Linked DNA regions of Homo sapiens. The protein of the gene in region 2 interacts with the protein of the main gene of each other region in a pairwise test. Each region holds a gene or a part of one and is shown on either strand. Other genes may lie near its edges. The genes, in order: ZNF275 and LIN28A.

Evidence for each region.
Region 1: the proteins of LIN28A (region 2) and ZNF275 interact in binary tests that used the Homo sapiens proteins (3 or more experiments, as listed by UniProt).

The regions. Positions count from the first base shown.
Region 1 is NC_000023.11:153,342,596-153,352,998, reverse strand, and holds the end of ZNF275 (zinc finger protein 275), read right to left. Parts: intron 7,480-10,403; coding exon 7,378-7,479; intron 6,181-7,377; coding exon 5,024-6,180; 3' UTR 73-5,023; downstream 1-72. UniProt on the Homo sapiens protein: May be involved in transcriptional regulation.
Region 2 is NC_000001.11:26,412,262-26,422,664, reverse strand, and holds part of LIN28A (protein lin-28 homolog A), read right to left. Parts: intron 1-10,403. UniProt on the Homo sapiens protein: RNA-binding protein that inhibits processing of pre-let-7 miRNAs and regulates translation of mRNAs that control developmental timing, pluripotency and metabolism.

The DNA.
Region 1 (10,403 bases), on a different chromosome or scaffold from region 2:
CCCCATGGCATGGAGAAAGGAGCAAGGAAAGTGGTAAATGAAGGTTTGACAAAAGACGTCAAGGAAGACCAATGCCATTTAACATATATTTATTGAAATCTACTTGATGCAAGGCACTGTGCTAGATTTGGTAGGGGATCAGACATGAAAGGCCACCCCTGTCTTCTAAGAGCTCACAATTTAATGGGTGGGGGAGGGCTGAGGAGGAGGGGGTGAAGCCAAGTCCACAAACAGCTCTAGTGCAAGGCTGATTATAGTGAGTGCCAGAAAACAGACAAGGTAATGAGATGGGGGAATGAGAAAAAAGTGCCAACAACCAACGGAAATACAAACTGGGGTGGGACATAGCTATTGTTCTCAGAGATACGCAAATGACATTGAGGGCCAAGTTTAAAGAGACAGTTTCTGCTTTTCAAAGTAAACATCCAAAGTGATGCAATGAGAACTACAGAATGTAAGTACATGAGTAAGAGAGAAGTTAGCAATCCCCCCATCTGATGGACATGCTGGAAATCGTGAAACACTTCAAAAATAAGAGAACAGGGTGCACTGTGATTTCACTCATTTTATGGCCCGCATGTGGTGGGTTCAGTAAAGGAACAATATACGTAGACATAAAATCACAGGTTAAATTCACTGAGACTAGAAGGCATCGACTTTCACCCATCTTAGAGAACAGAGAACACACGTTTGAACAGGTGTTCATGCAGTCAGGTGCGACTTGGCCAGGAAGCAGCCAAGTGGCAAAACACAATAGAAAAGAGTAGAGACCCACTCAAGCTGGCTCAAGTCAAGGAGTCTGTAGTGGGGACGCACGTGGACCAATGAGGGCTGCTGCCAGAAATCCAAGAACATACCATGGCCAGGCCTTCCTCCCAGCAGGCGCCACGCTCCTCACTCCTCTGAGTACTGTGCTGCTCCCCACACCTTCTGATGCCTAGAAGCTTCTGTTTCCTTGTTTGCATTTCAGATCTGGAAGGCCTGGTGGTGTCCGTGGTCCATCATGTTCTGTCAGCTCTATGCTCTGATGATTGCTTGCTGCCCTTGGGTCAGGTGTTCAGTTCTGGCTGAATTAATATGGCCTAGAAGCGGGGTGGCAAATCACATGGTACGCAACAGGGCCACAACCCAGGGCTGCAGGTAGGGCAGGCGCTGTGCCAGTTCTAGGACAAAATCAAGCACATGGAATGCAACACCACTCAAAAACATGCCCGCTGCAATTGGGTAGGGACTATTCTGGAAATGCAAGAGTGGGGTGACACAGCTAATGGACACAGCTCATCGTAATAAGCAGCAAAAATGGTAATCAATTACTTTCTTTTGAAAATTTTCACAAGTATTCAAAACTCTAATAAAAGCAATGGAGGATTTTTTTCAAATGGTAGGAAAAGAACATATTTCTTTTTTTTTTTTCTTTTTCCATGCCAGGCAGTTAATGTGCTGACATAGTAACAAGGTTTGAAGGAGGAACATCTCATGCACGTGCGTGGAAACCCAATTGTCATGTGTATGAACTACAAAAGGATCGGGAAAAGAACACATTTCCTCACAACAGGAATACATGAGATTAGAAAGAAAACCGGAATGAGGTAGATGCATGAATGCACAGACAAGGATATGTGACAGGAAGCTGGGTGACATTTTGCATCTGACATAGCAGTACACCTAGAGAGCCCAAGGAAATCCACCCCCAAGTTACCAGAGGCAAGAAATGATCTTGGCGAAATTACAGGACACACGTTAAAGCCACAGACTGCATTGAAAGAGAACACGGGTTTCACCGCAAACACCATGAACAGCTGTTCTGTCAACCTTGACGGCAAAGACCAGATCTTTAGTGTTAACTCTAAAAGAGCATTTGTTTGGGAGAAAATTATAGAACTGAAGATGGGAAAGAGTCAAGGACGGCAGGAAGGGATGCCAAGACACCACGTCCCAGCTGGGAGCAGTGACGACTTTATGCTACGTTCTGAGTTAATGCTGCATTCAATGGGATCCCTTCATAAAAGGGATCTACTTCAATGGGATCCCTCATGAAACCCAACAAACGATAAATGAACGGGCAAGACATGGCAGAGTACTTCTAGGTAAAGGTGCCAGACTTGCCCCTGGTAGAGGTCAACCTTCTTTATCAAATGACAGCTGTACAAAACACATCCTAACAACTCGAAAAGAGAAAAAGGATCCGAGAAGAAAGTAGTGATTTCAGACACAGATTCACAACTACTGCAAGAACTGAGGCCCACAGGGCAAAAGGAATCACTATGTAACAAGTGCTTTTGGCTCCTCTCCAGCCTGGGGGTCAGGATGGGTGCCTGAGAAGCCCTTCCAAGTTGTGTCTGCTAGGAAGCTCTGCCTCAGCCTTGGTGGGCCCACGAGAAGGGCACACTTCCTTGCCAGGCCCTCCTAGTGTCCCTGTCCCCAGCCACAGCTGCTGGGAAGTCACAGCACAGCCCTGGTGGGGCTGGCTTCTATCTGTGGCTTCTGTGGGCCACTGGAGGGGCAGGTTCCTCGCTAGCCCTTGCTGCTGTTCCTCTTGGGGGAGCCCACTGGAAATGGTAGCTCAGACCCAGGAGGACCAGCTTCTACTTCTATGCCACACAGGCTTTCAGAAGGGTTCCACTGCCCTCCAAACCTTTGCTTTAGTGCTCCTCCTGGGCATGGCTGTTGCAAATCATAGCCCAGGGCAGTGCTGCCAGCTTCTATCAGCATAACGCACAAGCCATCGGAGGGGCAGGGTTCCTCTCCGAGCCTCTGCTCTGTTGCCCTCACTTAGGTGTGGCTATAGGAAGTGATGCCAGAACACATGGGTGAATTTTCCCCTAGCTGCCCACAGCAGAAGCCTATGAACCAATCTCTTTCTAGTTCTAGAGTCACCGGCTGAAAGGAGGATGTGGTCTAGGCAAGTCTTCTTGTGTCCAAGGAGATGTTTCTTGGGTGAATCTGCTGCTCAGTCACTGAATCCACTCGGAGCATTGCCAAGGCTCCCAGGAGCTCAAAGGATGGCTGGGCTGCTTGCTCCCAGACCAAGTTTGGACCACTCCATTGATCTAGGTGAGGCCAAGCCCCACTGCTGCTGGCGGGGTCTATAATGATGAGCAGTCACAGAGTTCTGGCTAATCTATGATGGGAGCATCTCCAGTGTGCCGCAGTGGTCAGGTTGGATAGTCAAGTGGTGCCCACAGATAGACAGGGAGTCCGCATCTCGGATGAGGAAAGAGCCTGCTTCTCTGGCCCATTTCCATCCAGCCTGCCCACCTGGTGTACTCACCTTCTGATGGGCTGGGGTTGCAGCTTTTTGTTTGTAATTAAAATTCTAGAGAAAATGTCATCATATCTAGCTACAGAAGCAATGAAAGTTATGACTGAGTGGACAAAAAATGAATGCTTGGATATGTAAAAATTAAAAGCTTTCACAACAAAAACGTAATAAAACTGCTACAAAAAGCAAAGCAATAAAATTGGAAAAGAGAACATCACCATCAATATAGAAAGAACTGCTACATAAAGTTAATATATCCGAAGGTAAGTTGATAACTAGTCAAAGGAGATGAACGGACCATTTGCATGCAAAAAACAGAAACACCATTTAAGTCATCGCATAAGAGAAAGATGAGACTGGTGGTCAGGAGGCCTGGGGTCTATCCCCAGTTCTGGAATTGACAAGCCACAGAATGACGGCAATAACTATGACAATGACAATGACAGCAGATGGCCTTCACTGAGTGTGTACCTCCATACCAGGCCGGTGGTCCTGGCACTCTGCAGCCACGATGGCAGTCCTCGTGATAACCTTCGGAGGTAGGTGCTGTGATCACCCCTGTTTTATAGAACAAGAAACGGAAGGCTGGAGAAGTACCATCTAGGCCTGATACCAGGAGAGGCTCATTTCCAAAAGGAGGCGTCACCCTGCACTTGAGTCCTTGAGATGTATCTCTTCTTAGGGGCATGCTCTCAACTATTTTATTTTGAACAAAATAGTGCTGCTTGAGGACAAGACCCATTAGTTCAAAACAACCCCAATCGATGCTAGTTTTGGATATGTATAGGGGACACCAAATTGAAATGGTTTAAGAAAAAAAGATACCGACATTTAACCCAGATTCAGTAACTGTTACTAGGCGTTTGGCCTCACAATGACATTTTGGGTGCTTTAAAAGAAAAGACGTTTAAAGGTTGTTTGAAAAAGTATGACCTTAAGTGGTTATATTGTACAGTCACAGGACAGATTAAAAAACGACAAGAGAAATCGTCCTAATGTTCTGCAAATATGGTCTTATGGCTTGGGAGAAAATTTCTAATGAGAGCCTCATGAAGGGATCGTCACTGAGCGACCGTGCAGAGCTCGGATGGAAGTGACTGGGTGTGTCTTGAAACTGTCTGATGACTCAAACAGGGTTCCCATGTTGGTGAAGACGGTGAGGAGTCAGAGTAAAATGATTTCGTGAAAGGGAGGGTGGCAAAAATGGGGTATTTTCTAAATTAATATATTATTTTATATAATATGTGATTTACAGTATGTATGTATAACTAAATTAATAAATTAAATATTTTAAGACATTTGAGTGTTCTATTTACATCCCTAAAAATTTATAAATTCAAGTAGGCCAAAAATCATGAGGGCAACGTTCTCTTCAGGAAAGCTGGGATCACATTATGAGGACGCCATCGTGGAACAGCTCTGTGTGTTTCTCTGGGGCGGGGGGAGCTTGGAGTTGATGACCTCTAAGCCCCTCCCTACCCCACATCCAGATTTGTCCTCTCTCATTCTTGGATTCAAGGCATGTGGACTGAAATACCTTGATGGTACTTCCTACCAGTTAAACTAGCCAAACTAAGTTAAATGGTACAAGCTACTCTTGATGGGCATAACGTAACACTTATAAATTGCTGGTGGCAGTATAAATCGGTCTCAACCTTTTGGAAGACAAAATATATAAGCGCTACAAAACTGTTCATCTCCTTTGACTCTGCCATCCCCTCTGGGGACTCCGTCCCTGTCCCGCGGGACCACAGGGCGTTTCTACTCGTGGTGGGTTGGCTGATGCTTCTGCAGTGCCGAGCGCCTCTTGAACACGCGGCCACACTGGCTGCATTCGCAGCGCCGCGCCCCACTGTGGATCCGCCGGTGGCGACTGAGGCCGGAGCTCCGGCGGAAGGCCTTGCCGCATTTGTCGCACTCATAGGGTTTCAGTCCGCTGTGGATGCGCCGGTGCTTGATGAGGTCAGAGGGCCCACGGAAGGCCTTGCCACACTCGCCGCATGCGTAGGGCCGCTCGCCACTGTGGATGCGTGCGTGCTCCAGGAGGCTGGAGCTCTGGCGGAAGGCCTTGCCGCACTGGCCGCAGGCGTAGGGCTTCTCGCCCGTGTGGATCCGCCGGTGCTTGGTGAGCTCCGAGCTCCTTCGGAAGAGCTTGCCGCAGTGGGGACACCCGTATGGCTTGGCCCCACTGTGGATGCGCTGGTGCTCGGCCAGCCCGTTGACCCCTCGGAAGGACTTGCCGCAGTCGTCGCAGTCGAAGGGCAGGTGGCCAGTGTGCATGCGCTGGTGCTTGAGAAGCTCCTGGCGATCCAGGAAATCCCTGCTGCACGCCTTGCAGGCGAAAGGCTTTTCCGAAGTGTGAAGTTTCTGATGTCGGAAGAGGTGGGTGTTGACTTTGAACGACCGCCCGCATTCCTCGCAATCAAAGGGCTTCTCTCTGCTGTGGACCCTCAGATGCTGACTCAGGCCTGCATTCTTCTTAAACCGTTTTCCGCACTCCTCGCACTCGAAGGGCTTTGCCTCCCTCTCCATCTGCTCCCTCTTCTCCGCGGCATTCTCCAGGGCCCTACTGGGGCCGGGCTGGGGCTCCGCAGCTACGTGGCTTTTCCTGTGCTCATTAAACTCCGCCACCCCCCTAAAGACCTTCCCGCAGTCGCCACATTCCCAGCCCTTCTCCTCACTGTGGACTCTCTGGTGCTGGACAAGCAGGACTTTAAGCCGAAAGGTGTCCCCACACTCTTTACAAGCAAAATGATGTTCTATGGGCAGATTCTGTGGGCTCCCTCTCTTCCCGTCAGAGTCCCCGTGCTGTCTGAATTCAGGACTGGGACCACTGGCCCTTGGGAAGCTTGTGGACGCCATCTCCTGTGGCTGGGCATCTTCCCCCTTCATCTGGTGTCGGGTCGCGGAGGTGCTTTCTGAAACGATAAACACAAGGCAGTGTAGTCTGCAGAGGATGAAGGAGGGAAGGGCCTCTCCTTTGTCAAGAATCTTTTTCTTTCTGAGACAGCCACTGAGCACGGGGCCTGGGCCCGGAAGCCACCAGAAGCAAGGACTGCAGAAGCCAGGGGCAGAGGGACCTCATTCTGGACACTCTCTACCACAGTGGTGCTGAGGAGGTCACCCCTTCTGTGACCAGAGAGCAGCCACACACGTCCCCAAAGGCTCAGCTGGGTCCCCCAACCCTAACCTCAACCCCAAGAGCTCAGCTGGGATCCCCAAACATAACTTGAATCTCCAAAGGGCCCTGCTGATCCTCAACCTAACCTCACCATCAAGAGCTCAGCTGGGGCCCCAAACCCTAACTAGAACTCCAAAAGCTCAGCTGGGACCCCCAACCCTAACTGTAACTCCAAGAGCTCAGCTGGGATCTCCAAACATAACCCGAATCTCCAAAGGGCCCTGCTGATCCTCTCAACCCTAACCTCACCGTCAAGAGCTCAGCTGGGGCCCCAAACACTAACTAGAACCCCAAAAGCTCAGCTGAGCCCTCCCAACCTTAACTTCAACTCCAAGAGCTCAGCTGGGCCCCCCAACCCTAACTTCAACCCCAAGAACTCAGCAGGGCTCCCAAACTTAACCTCAACCCCAAGAGCTCAGCTGGGGTCCTAACTTTAACCTGAATGCCCAGAGAGCCCAGCTGATCCTCTCAATCCTAACCTCAACCCCAGGAGCCCAAATGGGCCCCTCTACTCGTAACCTCAACCTCAGAAGTTCAGCTGGACCCCCTAACCCTAACCTCAACCCCAAGAGCTCAGCTGGGTCCCTCAACCCTAACCCGAACCCAAGAGCTCAGCTGGAACCCCCCAACTCTAACTCAAAACCTCCAAGAGGCCAGCTGATCCTCTCAACCCTAACCTCAACCCCAAGAGCTCAGCTGGGCCCCCAACCCTAACCCAAACCCCTGAGAGATCAGCTGTTTCTCTCAACCCTAACCTCAAGCCCAAGAGCTCAGCAGGGCCCCCAAACCCTAACCTCAACTCCAAGAGCTCAGCTGGGACCCCCAACCCTAACCTGAAGCCTAACAGCTCAGCTGGGCTCTCCAACCCTAACCCATGCCCCATAGCAGCTTGGTTGGGTCTCCCCCAATTTCCTCACATTTCTTTTTCACTCACCAGAGTACTTAGCAGGATCAGTGTTGGGCGATGGGTCTGACACCAGTAGCACTTGTCCTTGTGCCAGGTGAGGGACCAAGGCAGGATTTAAAACAGGAACGCCTGCTCATGGGAAAGGAGATTGGTTATGGCAACAGCCAGAGATGACATGAGAATAGTGGAGGAACATAGGCAAGGCCTTTGAAGGGGAACCCCCTTCAATCTTCAAAGACCAGGCTTTAGGCAAGTCATTCATTCAGTTCAAAGGTGTTTCCCAAGGTCAGGCTCCTTCCAGGAGCTTGAGGAAGGCAGCCTCTGGGCCCACCTTGGGGAGGCTCTGTGGAGTATCAAGTGGCCACCCTGAGGAGGTGATCTTCACCCTGTCTTCTCTCTGTCCACCCACTCAGAGCTCACACATTTAACTTCATGCTCTTCCCAGACACGTGGACTTCGACAGCTCCCAAATCTGACTCCCAACGTCTCTCCTCCTAAAACCTCCTCCCCACTGCACACATGCAGACCCCTAATGGGTGAACAAGATCTTGATCACGTCAACCTTTCTCACAAATAAACTCAAACCAAATGGCCATGCAATTTGCATAATTTGTGCATTAAAATGAAAAGGGCATTCTACATTACAGTGGCAGTGTTCTAATTTCTTTCCCAGTAAAAGACTGAGAGGGGTTCTTTCCATGCCAAGAGGAGTTGGGGGAGCTCATACTACTCTGACATATCAGGTGTGGCAGACCCATTGTGTTTCCCCACAACCCAGGGAGAAGGTGAGCTTCTGTGGGGGTAGCCATGTGTCCCCTGCCCCACTCCAAGAAGGTGGTGAATTTGAGGAAGGGCTGGGACATCCTTACCCACAGAGGTCACGTTCCCATAATATTCCAGTGCCCTCTGTTCAGGGTCCAGCTTAAACCACTCCCTTGTGGTGAGGTACCATGCCACATCATCAAATGTCACCAAATCCTGAAAGAATTCCCAGGGCTCATCAGTCTTTCCATCTATTTTAGAATGAGGCAGGGGCAGCGCCAGTAATGCCAGGGTCAAGAGGTGAGGGTCTGGAGTGGGTGTCTGTTGCTAACATGGAGGCCTAACCACAGCTCCAAGAAGTCCTGAAAAGAGAACCTGATCAAGCACTAGGATCCCTGGGCCATGGACCTGGCCTCTCGTCTTTCCAAGGGACCTCCATTCAATCACTTTCCTGGATGGAAACTCAGCTTCCCCACCTGGATGATTGGAACTCCAAGCCCAGTGGACATCCAATCCTTGGCAGCCTCCAGAAGAGAAGCAGAGGGAGGGTAGGAAGGCAGCAGCTGGGGTTCATACTCTGCCGTGTGTCATGCTGGGGCAAGAGACAGAGGCTGAGGCCAGATTCAGGGAGCGGTGAGAGAATCCCAAGCAAGGCAGAGGGAAGCACAGCTCACCTAGGCCTCTGGCATCTCAAGAGGGACTGCCAGGACCTGGTTTCCTGGGGCTCCATCCTGGGGAGGGTAAGACCTTGGGGAGTAGGTGGAACTAAAGAAAGTGAAAAAGGCCATGAGTGACGACAGCCCTGTCCCTGGATCCCCTGGGAAGAGACTGGTGATTTCTTCTTCCTTGGTTTCTGATCTTGTTGAGTCTTCTCTCACATGCTGGCTGAATGACAAGCCAGGGCACGGAGATGCCTGAGAAAACACATCTTGAACAATGGGGAAAGTAGCCTGGCAAAGAATGAACAGAGGCAGGCCAGAGGGAGCCAAGACAAGACCAGCAGATGCCAGCCCAGGCACAGCTAGGAGAAGACAGACCTAGACAGAAAGCCAAGGGCAGGGAGACTGGCAAGCCTAGAAGTCCATGCTGATGCTGCACAGGAAGGAGGCACACCAAGATCATCAGAAGAAATAACCAGGAAATGAGAGACCCTTTCCAACTTTGTAGAGGCAACAAAAAACCGGATGAAGATGCTGGAGGGAAGAGAGCAGGAATGGGGGCTTCTAGACCAGCAGTGAGGCCCTTAAAAGCCACAGCCCACTGACACAAGGAGCCCGGTGACAGCAAGACAGGTACACATGACAGCAGTTCTCTAACGTGTTCAACCCAAATGAAAAGTGGAACAAAACAGCTGGAAAAATAAGCCTCAAAGAAAAGATCTTCAAACACTAAATTGTTAAATAAAAGAGCTGAATGATTTGTACAAATTATCTTCTTCTTCCAAATTGCAAAATATGTGAAAGATTCAACCACCGGCATCCGTGCATCACAGGCCTCCCACTTCAGTGAATTCTAAGAAACAGCTACACAGTTCCTGTTGTGATGACAATTCAATTCAATTCAACTCATAATTCAGTGAAAAGGAAGGCTCTTACACTGGCTCAAGGCCCACAAAATCCAGCTACTCCAGAAAGACTCTTATATAAAATTAAAGATGTTATGTGAAAAAGAATGGACAGAAACTTCCACGTTTGGCTGCGATGGAGTAACAAGGAACAGATTTCACATCGTGCCATAAATAAGTAGAAAAAAATGGAGAAAATATATGTGAAACAAGTTTTCAGACACTGGACAGCAGGAAGCACAGAATCATGATCCCCAAGAGAAGAGAAACAGATGACGGGAGCCCTATCATTGCCCCAGCTCTCTGCCTGGAGGCAATTTCCAGATCGAGACTGTGTGTTGGGGTGGGCGAGAACCAAATAGAGCTTAGTGGCTTCGCCAAGTTGAGGAGACACAGGCCAGCATTCAGAGCAGCTGAGGCAGCTGGAAGTTGCAGAGCAGAGTTCCAGAAAGGAGTTAGTTATGCAGTAAAAAGAGCTTCAAAAAATCTGTATAAGCCTCCCCTTGAGTCTTTCCTGACTACTAGGCCCATGCATGCATAGAGTGAAACTCCAAAAGCCCAGGAAAAGGGTGACCAGGAAGCTGTAAGCTGAACAATTCTCAGGACACACAAAGGTAGGGAGACATTCAAGGTCTGATCAACCAGTATAGAGAGTCCTCTGTGATCACCTGGGACATGCAGCAGAGAATCCAGAGGCCTTAGTAGTAGGGCTGATCTATTCCTAGAG
Region 2 (10,403 bases):
GTTTAGCTTTGCCTACAATGGGACACACATATCTTCTAATATGATGCACTAAGGACTTATGACTTTAAAAATGCACATCCTGAATCTAACCTTGAGGGAACATCAGACAAACCCAAACTGAGGGACATTCCTATAAAACAGGACTTCAAAAATGTCAAGGTCATAAAAAGACAAAGCCTGAAGAACTGAACAGTTCAATGAAATCCAAGATTCCAGATTGGATCTTGAAACAGGAAAAAAAAAAAAAAAATAGGACAATTGACAAAATTTGCATATGGTATATAGATAAATGTACCAGTGTTTAATTTCCTGATTATGATTAGTGTACTGAAACGATGTAAGATTGATATTCCCAGCCAGGCACAGTGGCTGATGCCTATAATCCCCAGCACTTTGGGAGGCCAAGATGGGCGGATTGCTTGAGCCCAGGAATTCGAGACCAGCTTGGGCAATATGGCAAAAACCCATCTCTACAAAATAATACAAAAATGAGCCAGGCACAGTGGTACACACCTGTAGTCCCAACTACTGGGGAGGCTGAGGTGGGAGGATCCCTTGAGCCCAGGAGGCAGAGGTTGCAGTGAGCAGAGATCACACAACTGTGCTCCAGGCTGGGTGACAGAGTGAGACCCTGTCTCAGAAAAAAAAAAAAAAGATAAATATTCCCATTCTTGGGAAATACGCACTGAAATATTTAGAGATAAAAGTGCTTACTGTCTCCAACTTATGGTTTCAAAAAAAAAACTATCTGTAGCAAGATAGAGAATGATAAAGCAAATGGGGCAAAATGTTAAGAGTCAATGAATCTGGGTAGAGGTTATGTGGGAGTGTTGGGTATTGTTCTTGCAGCCTTTTTAAAGTTTGAAATTATATCAAAATAATGTTACCGAAAGACAGTATAACCCAAGCAGATGGATCAGAGGATTAAAATGGAAAATCACAGAGATCTGAGAATATATGGAGAAATCAATAGGTAAGAAAAATAATTCAATAAATGCTGCTATAAAAATTAATAATCCATTGGGAAAGGAAGTCATATTCCTACAGACTTTGTATGATACATATGCAAAATACATTTCAGAGGATTTAAACACCTCATTGTTAAGAAAAATACTGAAAAGTTAAGACAGATAATCAGACTGGTAAAACTACAAAAATATACCATAAATCACTAAGAAAAAAGAATTACACAACATAATATAAGTAGATTATCAGTAGGAAGTCTTAGCACGACACATATACTCAGTATCTCATTGTTGCTTTAAAAAAATTGGAAATAACCTACTGGTGTATTTGAAGGGGAATGGTTGAATAAATATGGTACATCTATAATAATGAATACCACGCAGCCATTAAGAACAACGTAAAGTCTTTGGTTTGTTCACAGCCACATTTTGGTACCTGAAATAATGCCTAGCACATTTTTGAATGAATTAATGAAACAGGAGGCAGATTTTTAATCATTCAGCTGAGAAAGATCACCAAATAATATTGTTAAAAGAAAAAACAAAAAGCAAGATTTAGAACAATATGTATGGAATAATCCTATTAGAACACTGCACGTTTGTACCAAAATTTAAGGACACTGATATTTATAAAGCAGTTAGCAAACAGCCAGCAGCCATCAAGAAAAAAAAAAAAAGTAGTTGTTGATACAGCTAGTTCTGTAGCAAAGCCAGGGTCAGATGAACCCAGAGTTCCTGATTTAAAGCTCAGAGCTCATTCTATCATGCCACTTACTGCACCACCAACTTGACATTAGCGGAGGTGACAGCATCTCAGACCCTACCCAGAATAGACTTCATTACAGCTTCATCTATTATAGTAAAACAACAGTGTCAAATATGTCAACAAGGAGTAGTCGTCATAGAAAATGGAGAAGCAAAAGGGATCACTGTGCACTTACCTAGTCCTGGCTCAAGGGAACATGAGTAAGTAGCATTCGTATTTTATGCTGGTGGCTGGGGGGTAATATTCCAAACTGGAACTTAAATGAAACATGCTCTTCATCAAGATGAAGGAACCACAGATTCCTTATCACTTAATTTTTTTTTTTTTTTTTTGAGAAAGTCTTGCTCTGTCGCCCATGCTGAAGTGCAGTGACACGATCTCAGCTCACTGCAACCTCCGCCTCCTGGGTTTAAGCGATTCTTCTGGGTTTAAGCTAGGACTACAGGCGCACGCCACCACACCCAGCTAATTTTTGTATTTCTAGTAGAGACAGGGTTTCACCTTATTGGCCAGGCTGGTCTCAAACTCCTGACCTCATGCCTCCTAAAGTGCTGGGATTACACACCATGCCCGGCCAAATTTTTGTTTTAAGATGATATTGCAGGCCGGGTGCAATACCTCTCTCGCTGTTTCACAGTAACCACCCTGAGTTTAAAGTTAGATTTGTAAGGTCGGGCATGGTGGCTCACAACTGTAATCCCAGCAATTTGGGTGACTGAGGCAGGTGGATTCTGAGCTTGAGGCTCAGGAGTTGGAGACCAGCCTGGGCAACAGGGCGAAACCCTGTTCTCTACAAAATAATACAAAAATTAGCTCAGCATGGTGGCATGTGCCTGTGGTACCAGCTACTTGGGAGGCTGAGGTAGAAGGATCGCTTGAATCTGGGAGGCAGAGCTTGCAGTGAGCTGAGATCGCGCCACTGCACTCCTGCCTGGGTGAGAGAGCAAGAACCCATCTCAAAAAATAAAGATTATATTAGATTTGACTTATTTTTTATTGAGCGGGGTGGGACAAGAGATGCAATTAGTGGGTGAGTTGGGAGGTCCTAGAGGAGCCAGACCAAGAGCCTTCTGGACCCAAGCAATTCCAGCTTCATTTGCTTGCCCAGCTTGTCTTAGGCTGGGACACTCCTAGTTCTAGCTGTGATTCAGCAGGTAAATAGTTAAGAACAAGGGTTGATTGAGTCTGATGGCCTGTTCCCTCCTTTCTTTAATCATCTATAAAATGGAGTAAATACTAATTTTATGGTAGTGCTGTGAGGTTTTACACATGAAAAGTAGTTAGCACTTCGCCTGCTACACATAAATCCTCAGGGAGTGGCAATTATCAACCTCTTCACACTGGGTGGCGTGGGTTAACAGAGAGAACTAAGTGCCAAGCATCTGGTTTTATCCTAACTAGCTATAGAAACTTAGAAGAATATCCCCTCTCTAAGCCCCAGTTGACTGGAGAGTAACACCTTCCTCTATGGACACCTCATAGGTTTATTTTAAGAGGATCATATAAATGGGGACATGCAACAAGAAATTGACTAGTCCTCTCAGGTCACTCACTGCATCACTGGAGGATCTGAGGTCTAAGACTTTTACAGAGTAAACCCCCACCCCTGCAGGTACCTCAGTGTAATCAAGAGATTTAAACTGGTGGTCTCCAGGGGTGGCTCCCTGCCCTCCTCCCCCGCCCCTTTCTAAAACACATAGTTTGAATTCCTCTCTTATCAGATAGGTAATCAGCGTGCAGCCCCACAGAGCCAGCCTCCCAGGGCCTGCATCTGAAAAGCGCCTGAAATTCTTGTACCACCCCCATTCCACCCCCAACCACACACAAAGCAGGGCCCCGCCCCCTTCCCCATCCCCTCCAAAAAGAAAAGACCTTAGGGGGAGGGGCATGGCCTGAGCTCCCCCAGTAGAGCCCAGCCCCAGGAAACAAAGAGTTGACACTGGCTGGTTCTGGTGGTCAGATTCCTGGAGTTCCAAGGAGCAGATCCCTCTTGCATCTCCCTCTCCCTCCTCCCCACATTCAACTGTTTCTTCCTTCCTCTCTATGTTGGGGTTATGGTCACGGGAGAGAACTAGATATAGAAAATTCTTCCTTCCCCAGGCAGTCTTGCCAAAGTCACCATCAGCAGCCATCTCCCTTCTCTGGCTTGCGCACTGCCCACTTCATGGATAGAACCAAACAGGACCCCCTCCCCTTGGGTCTCTTCAGTCCAATCCTGAATTATTGATTCAGATAAATTATTTTAAAGGGGAGGGGGAGAGAAGGCATGACCCATATCATCCTTTCCCAATTTCTTCAAGTTAGGACTGTGGGGAGCCTACATGGGCCTACTGTGTTGGGGAATGTGGCATCAGACAACAGACAGCATTTCTTTTTCTTTTTTTTTTTTTTAAAAAGTCTGGCTCTGTTGCCCAGGCCGGAGTGCAGTGGCACAATCTCGGCTCACTGCAAGCTCCGCCTCCCGGGTTCACGCCATTCTCCTGCCTCAGCCTGCCGAGTAGCTGGGACTACAGGCTCCTGCCACCATTCCTGGCTAATTTTTTGTATTTTTAGTAGAGACGGGGTTTCACCGCGTTAGCCAGGATGGTCTCGATCTCCTGACCTCATGATCTACCCGCCTCGGCCTCCCAAAGTGCTGGGATTACAGGCGTGAGCCACCGCGCCCACCCCAAGCATTTCTTTTTCTTTTTTTGATAACAGGGAAGGAATCTCTCCAGTTAAAGTACTTAGGCCTTCTGATCCCTTCTTAATACCTCAGTAATTGCCTGCCTTACCCTATCCAACCCACACCAAGTACCTCATCCCAGCTTCAATTTATGCCTTTGCAAGCTTAGAGATAGAATGAGCCTTAGGGGTCACTTAGGAAATGTGGAGTTAAAAACAAAAGAAAACATTATAAAAGAAAAAAGTATGAAGAGAAAAAAAAAAAACAACACAAAGGAACCTAAGTGTCCTTTCTCCAGAAGTGGCAACAGAATTTCAGGGTACTTGCTACAGTTGTGCAGATTAAAGCTGGGGTTCTTGGCTCTTCCGCAAGAGGCTATTCCAGATCTTCTTCCAGGGCCATTCCAGCCGGAAGATTCTGTAGTGCAGGTCTCTACCTCAATTCTAGGTTCTTAGCTTGCACAAGCATTTGTTGAATGTCTAAGTACTATGCAAAATAACTGTTACTAATTGATTCTTACTGTAGGCTAAGTGGCATTCTAACCACTTTACGTGTTGTAACTCATTTAACCCTCATATCAAACTGGTGCAGTGGGGTGATATGAAGACCCTCATTTTACAGCTTGAGGACATGGAGGCAGAGGGGTTAATAAGCACCTTGGTTAAAGTCGCAATAAGAGGCAAGAGCTGAGCTGAGTGCAGCTGGCCTAACTCTCCCCAGTGCAATTCATTATGATGCAAGTCACATATATAATTGAAAACTTTCTAGTAGCTACGTTTAAAAAAGCAGCTGATGAAAGTAATTTTAATGATTCAGTCCTGTGGTGTCACATCCCTAACTTAGCTTCATTCCTGGAGGTAAGATTTGGTAAGGGAGAACCAACCGGTTCTCCCAGAAGCAGTTATTCGATGGTGTGTGTGTCAAGGAGGGTGTGTGTCAAGGAGGTTGGTGAAAGGGGTGTCTGGAACAGAAGGCTGCAGGCAGCCAATCCCTCTGATCCCCTCTGCTCAGCCACAGCCAGGCCCTGTAGCTCCTGCCTGGAGTTCTCCACCAGATGGCGCTGCTCAGCCTGTCTGCCCAAAGGTAAGCCCGAGGGCGCCTATACCAGGAGGTACTGAGTGGCCCGCTACCTGGTCTGAGCTGTGAACTCAAGTGTTCGGGTAGATTTATCTCCACAGCTCCTTAGGGCAGTCATCTTGTCCTCCCCGTCCCACCCTGCCCCCACCCAACCACCGGCTTGATCAGGGATAAGAATGAAAGGTTCCTAGACTTTTAGGCCAGAAACTCAGTTCTTATATTCTACTGCTTAGAAAAGCCAAGTCCTGTCTAAATTAAATAACACCACGCTGGGCCAGTCATGGTGGCTCATGCCTGTAAATCCAGCACTTTGGGAGGCCGAGGCAGGCGGATCACCACGAGGTCAGGAGTTCGAGACCAGCCTGGCTAACATGGTGAAACCCCATCTCTACTAAAAATACAAAACATTAGCCGGGCATGGTGGCAGGTGCCTCTAATCCCAGCTACTCGGGTGGCTGAGGCAGGAAAATCGCTCAAACCTGGGAGGTGGAGGTTGCAGTGAGCTAAGACGGCGCCACTGCACTCCAGCCTGGGCAACAGAGAGAGATTCCGTCTCAAAAAAAATAAAAAACCTCGATGGTGAGATCATGTTAAATAAGTCTGTATCAACTGTGTATTCTCCCCCAACTCCTTTGACCTCCCACTCTGACTATGTGGCCAGTGGTTGCTATTCATGCCTGCAGGAAGACAGGAGGCATAGTTTTACCTAGGGCAGTTACTCCAAAAAACAAGAATTCCAGTAGAGTGTGATTAGCAATGTTCAAAAAACTAAATGGCCCTGGTGAATGTTACTGAAAACCACTTGTAAGGCAGGCAGCAGTGTCAACAACCAGAGGGTAGAAACATCCCATATTTGAAGCTTTGTTCAGGATGGTGTCACAGCCTTTACTTTACACTGTCGCCGGGCATCATGGCTCATGCCTGTAATCCCAGCACTTTGGGAGTCCCAGGCAGGTGGATCACTTGAGGTCAGGAGTTTGAGACCAGCCTGGACAACATGACGAAAACCCTTCTCTACTAAAAATACTAAAATTAGCTGGGTGTGGTGGTGTACATCTGTAATCCCAGCTACTTGGGAGGCTGAGGCAGGAGAATTGCTTGAACCCAAAAGTCAGAAGTTGCAGTGAGCCGAGTTCGTGCCACTGCACTCCAGCCTGGGCGACAGAGCAAGACTCTATCTCAAAAAATAAAAATAAAAATAAAAAAAAGACATTGTCTAGAAGCATGTCTCAGAAAGAAGAGGACCCCAGAAGATTCCACAATGTCTTCATGAACCTTCCTACCTCTCTACCAACTTTCTGAAAAATCGAGTCAATTTATTTTTAAGCTGCCTTTTCTTATTAAGACAGAAATAACTCATGGATGACCACTAAATCCGTGGCTTCCACTCTGTCAACAAAAACGAGAGGAACCTCTCTGGGCTCCGAGTGGTGATCTACCCATATTCACTCCACAAACTTTCATAGTGCTATGTTGTGCCCAGGCCATATTCTATGTTGTGCCCAGCCCAGAAAGCGAGCAGCTACAATTGACACCCCTCAGTATCTCTAGTCTTTTTCTCTGAACAAAGATCTCTGCCAACATGGACCCCAGACTGCTAAGTGTACTTCTGATTCACCAAGGTCCTCAAGATGCCCCTTTTCTTATTCATTCCTCAGCCCACCAAATGCATACTAGAAAATTAACCAGGCAGCTAAGTTCCTCCCTTCAAAGAGCTTATGGGTTACATAGAGAAGGGTATAAGACCAGTACCTCAATAACTAGACATGAGGTGAGTAATCAGAGGTGCAGTGTTACAAACCAGGAGGAAAGATTCCGTATATTTCCCCACCCGCCCCCGCAACCCTAACACCAAACCCAGCAGTCCTAACCTAGACCCTGAATAAAGTTGCTCTTACCACCTCCTCACTCATGGCTTTTAGAAAAAGAAGGCCACCTGGCTACAGGGCAATTTCAGCAGTTGTCTAGGTATTGAAAACCTTTTCTCCTAACCCAACTTGGTCCCTTGGTCAAATCTGGGCTTTTGACTCCAAGTCTTCTAATATAGCATTTTAGCCAGAAAGCCAATTTAAACATATTTGAGATTGAAACATATCTGGGTCCTGAGGAGCTATGGGAAAGCAGGGAACTTTTCTTATTTCCAAATTTCTATAAATCTTGAGAGTTTGCAAATTGAGCCACAGGAAACATGAGTTAAGCCAAAACTCTTAAAATGGCCCAAAATGAGGATTTTTGAATTCTTGATGAATCTCAGGAAAATAGTTGACAGTTTAGCTTTCTTGTTCCAGCTTTCCTATATAACTGTGTTTCTCAAGCAGGGATGAGATTTTTGACTCCAAGGGGACATTTGACAATGTATGGAGATGTTTTTGGTTGTCATACCTAAGATGCAACTGGCTTCTAGTGGGTAGAGACCAGGAATACTGCTGTACATCCTATAATACATAGGACAGACTCCCCAGAACAAATTATCCTGCTCAAAACATGTCAATAGTGCTGAAGTCGAGAAACTCTAATTTAAGGGCTTGCTATCTATTTCCCTAACTCTAGAGACAGGCAGATTTCTAGATCTAAAGATGTGTACCTAAGGAAAAGAGTTGTTATAGAAATCTCTTTGCTTTTTGTTTTGTTGTCGTTTTGCTTAGTTTTTGGCTGGGGGTGGGCTTTTCCCCCCACTCATCTACTCTTGAAGAGGATATTACAGCATTTGGGAGAGAGCATAAGAACATTAGTTAACAGGGCATTGGGATCCTAATAACCCCAACTTTGGAAAGGAAAAGAAAATGTTTTTAAATTGCCTTTCCCCCTTCCTCTTTATTTGCAAAGGGGCTCCCTGACCCCCTCCCTCTGGTAGATGCTATCTTAGGACAATTACCTTCTCACCAGCCCACCCCAACCCCAGGGTGCCCAACCCCAGCAGCCAAAGAATGGGAAGTTTTGTTAAAGATTTCTTACCCTCTGCTTCGGGAACACTTTCCTCCTCCCCCAGTAAACAATTTATCCTGTGTTTACTAAATTCCTTTACCATAAGATTTCCAGAGAGTCATTTCTAATTTCACAAATGCAGAAGAGTGGTGGCTCATGCCTGTAATCCCAGCACTTTGGGAGGCCAAGGCGGGCGGATCATCTGAGGTCAGGAGTTCAAGACCAGCCTGACCAACGTGCAGAAACCCCGTCTTTACTAAAAATACAAAAAATTAGCCGAGCGTGGTGGCACATGCCTGTAATCCCAGCTACTCAGGAAGCTGAGGCAGGAGAATCGCTTGAACCTGGGAGGCGGAGGTTGCGGTGAGTGGAGATCATGCCATTGCACTCCAGCCTGGCCAACAAGAGCCAAACACCATCTCAAAAAAAAAAAAAAAAAAAGCAACAAACAAACAAACAAACAAACAAAAAAACAAGTGCAAAGACTGGAATCACTAATCTAACTTACGGTTAAGGTGGGGTTGGAGGACCCCTGACCCAAGCCTTTCTGGCATGCTACCATTATCAGAGCTACCAGGTAAAGGCTCAGGGAATTTCCACCCATCATTGTGCTTTGTGAGTAGAATGGGAAGAGCTGGGGATTAGAGAGACAAATTCTTAATTCTCTTCCAGCTCAGCTCCCTATTGACAACTTACTCAACTATGGGTTCCTGGATGTTCCAAGAGCCTAAAATCCAGAGTATTTCCAAGCCAGCACATCTGACCCAGCATGGTGTAGACTCAATGCCTGCTCTATGCCATCCAATAGTTTCCCAATTGCTCTAGATCCTAAGGTGAAGCCTGCTGAGGCCCAAGTCCCCATTTGCTCAAACAAACAAACAAACAAAACAAGAAAACACCTTCCTTGGGGTATGTATATCACCAAGGAACCCAGAAGATGAGGGGATACATTCCCCTCAGCCCCTCCCTATCTGGCAGCCTTTGGATGGGAGATGAGAAAACGTTGGGTCTGACTCTTTTATTCCAGCCTCCCAAAGTTGGGGGAGCTGTCCAGTCCCCAGACCAGGAAAGATTTTAATCTCTTTGTGATCAGATAAATGGGAGAGTGGGGGAGGCTTGCTACCCTGCTGAGGAGGGCCATTCAAAGCTGGTTCCTGTAATAAAGTGATTTAATAGATCTAAAAAGGCCAATTCCCTTCTTTCTCCCACAATTACTTCCTGTGGGTTATCATTCACATATGTAAATGAGACAGAGAAGGGAGAAAAGCCACTAGTGGGAAACTAGCTGTCTAATGGGGGGTTGGGGGAATAAGGGTGCTGCAAAGGGGCAGCTCAGTATCCTGCTGCAGGTCCTCTTGGCAGATGTTCAAGTAGCCCACTGACCCCATGGCCCCAACAGTAAGTGGTGGCTCCCCATCTCCCTGCGTCTATTTCCCTTGTTTGTTCCTCACTGAAGGCTGTGCTCAAAGACGTCCCTGCTGCCTCCAACTAGTCCATCCAGCATCTCCCTTCTCTACCCCTCCCCCAAAGAATGCCATCCCTTCAGGCTCCAACCCTTAATCCCCACATCCTCCTTTCCCCTCCCCCACACCTCCTAAAGCCAACCTCCCTTAAGTAACCCCTCCCTGCCCGGCCTGGGTGTCAACCTACACGATCTGGGATTAGCAATTTCTTCTTTCCAGATCCAGTCCCAAACCTCCAAAGATGGAAGGGCCATAGGCAGCAAGCAACTTCCTTTCCATGGTCTTTATGGGTAGCTGGTGGCCCAGGACCACCGGAATGCCTCTAGGATATTCAGGAAGGGGAAGCCTGGGAGGAGGGAGACCTGAAGTCTCTGGCTCCTTGTTTGAGGCCAGGAATGTTAAGACAGCAATCAATGGCTGTCTGGGGCCATAAATGCCAAGCGGAGAATAGGACCAGAGGCCAGCCTCCCTTCACCCCCTGCCCTGCGACACTGAATTTCACCCCCTACTGTGCTGCCCTGCTTTAACTGAGAACTTGGGGT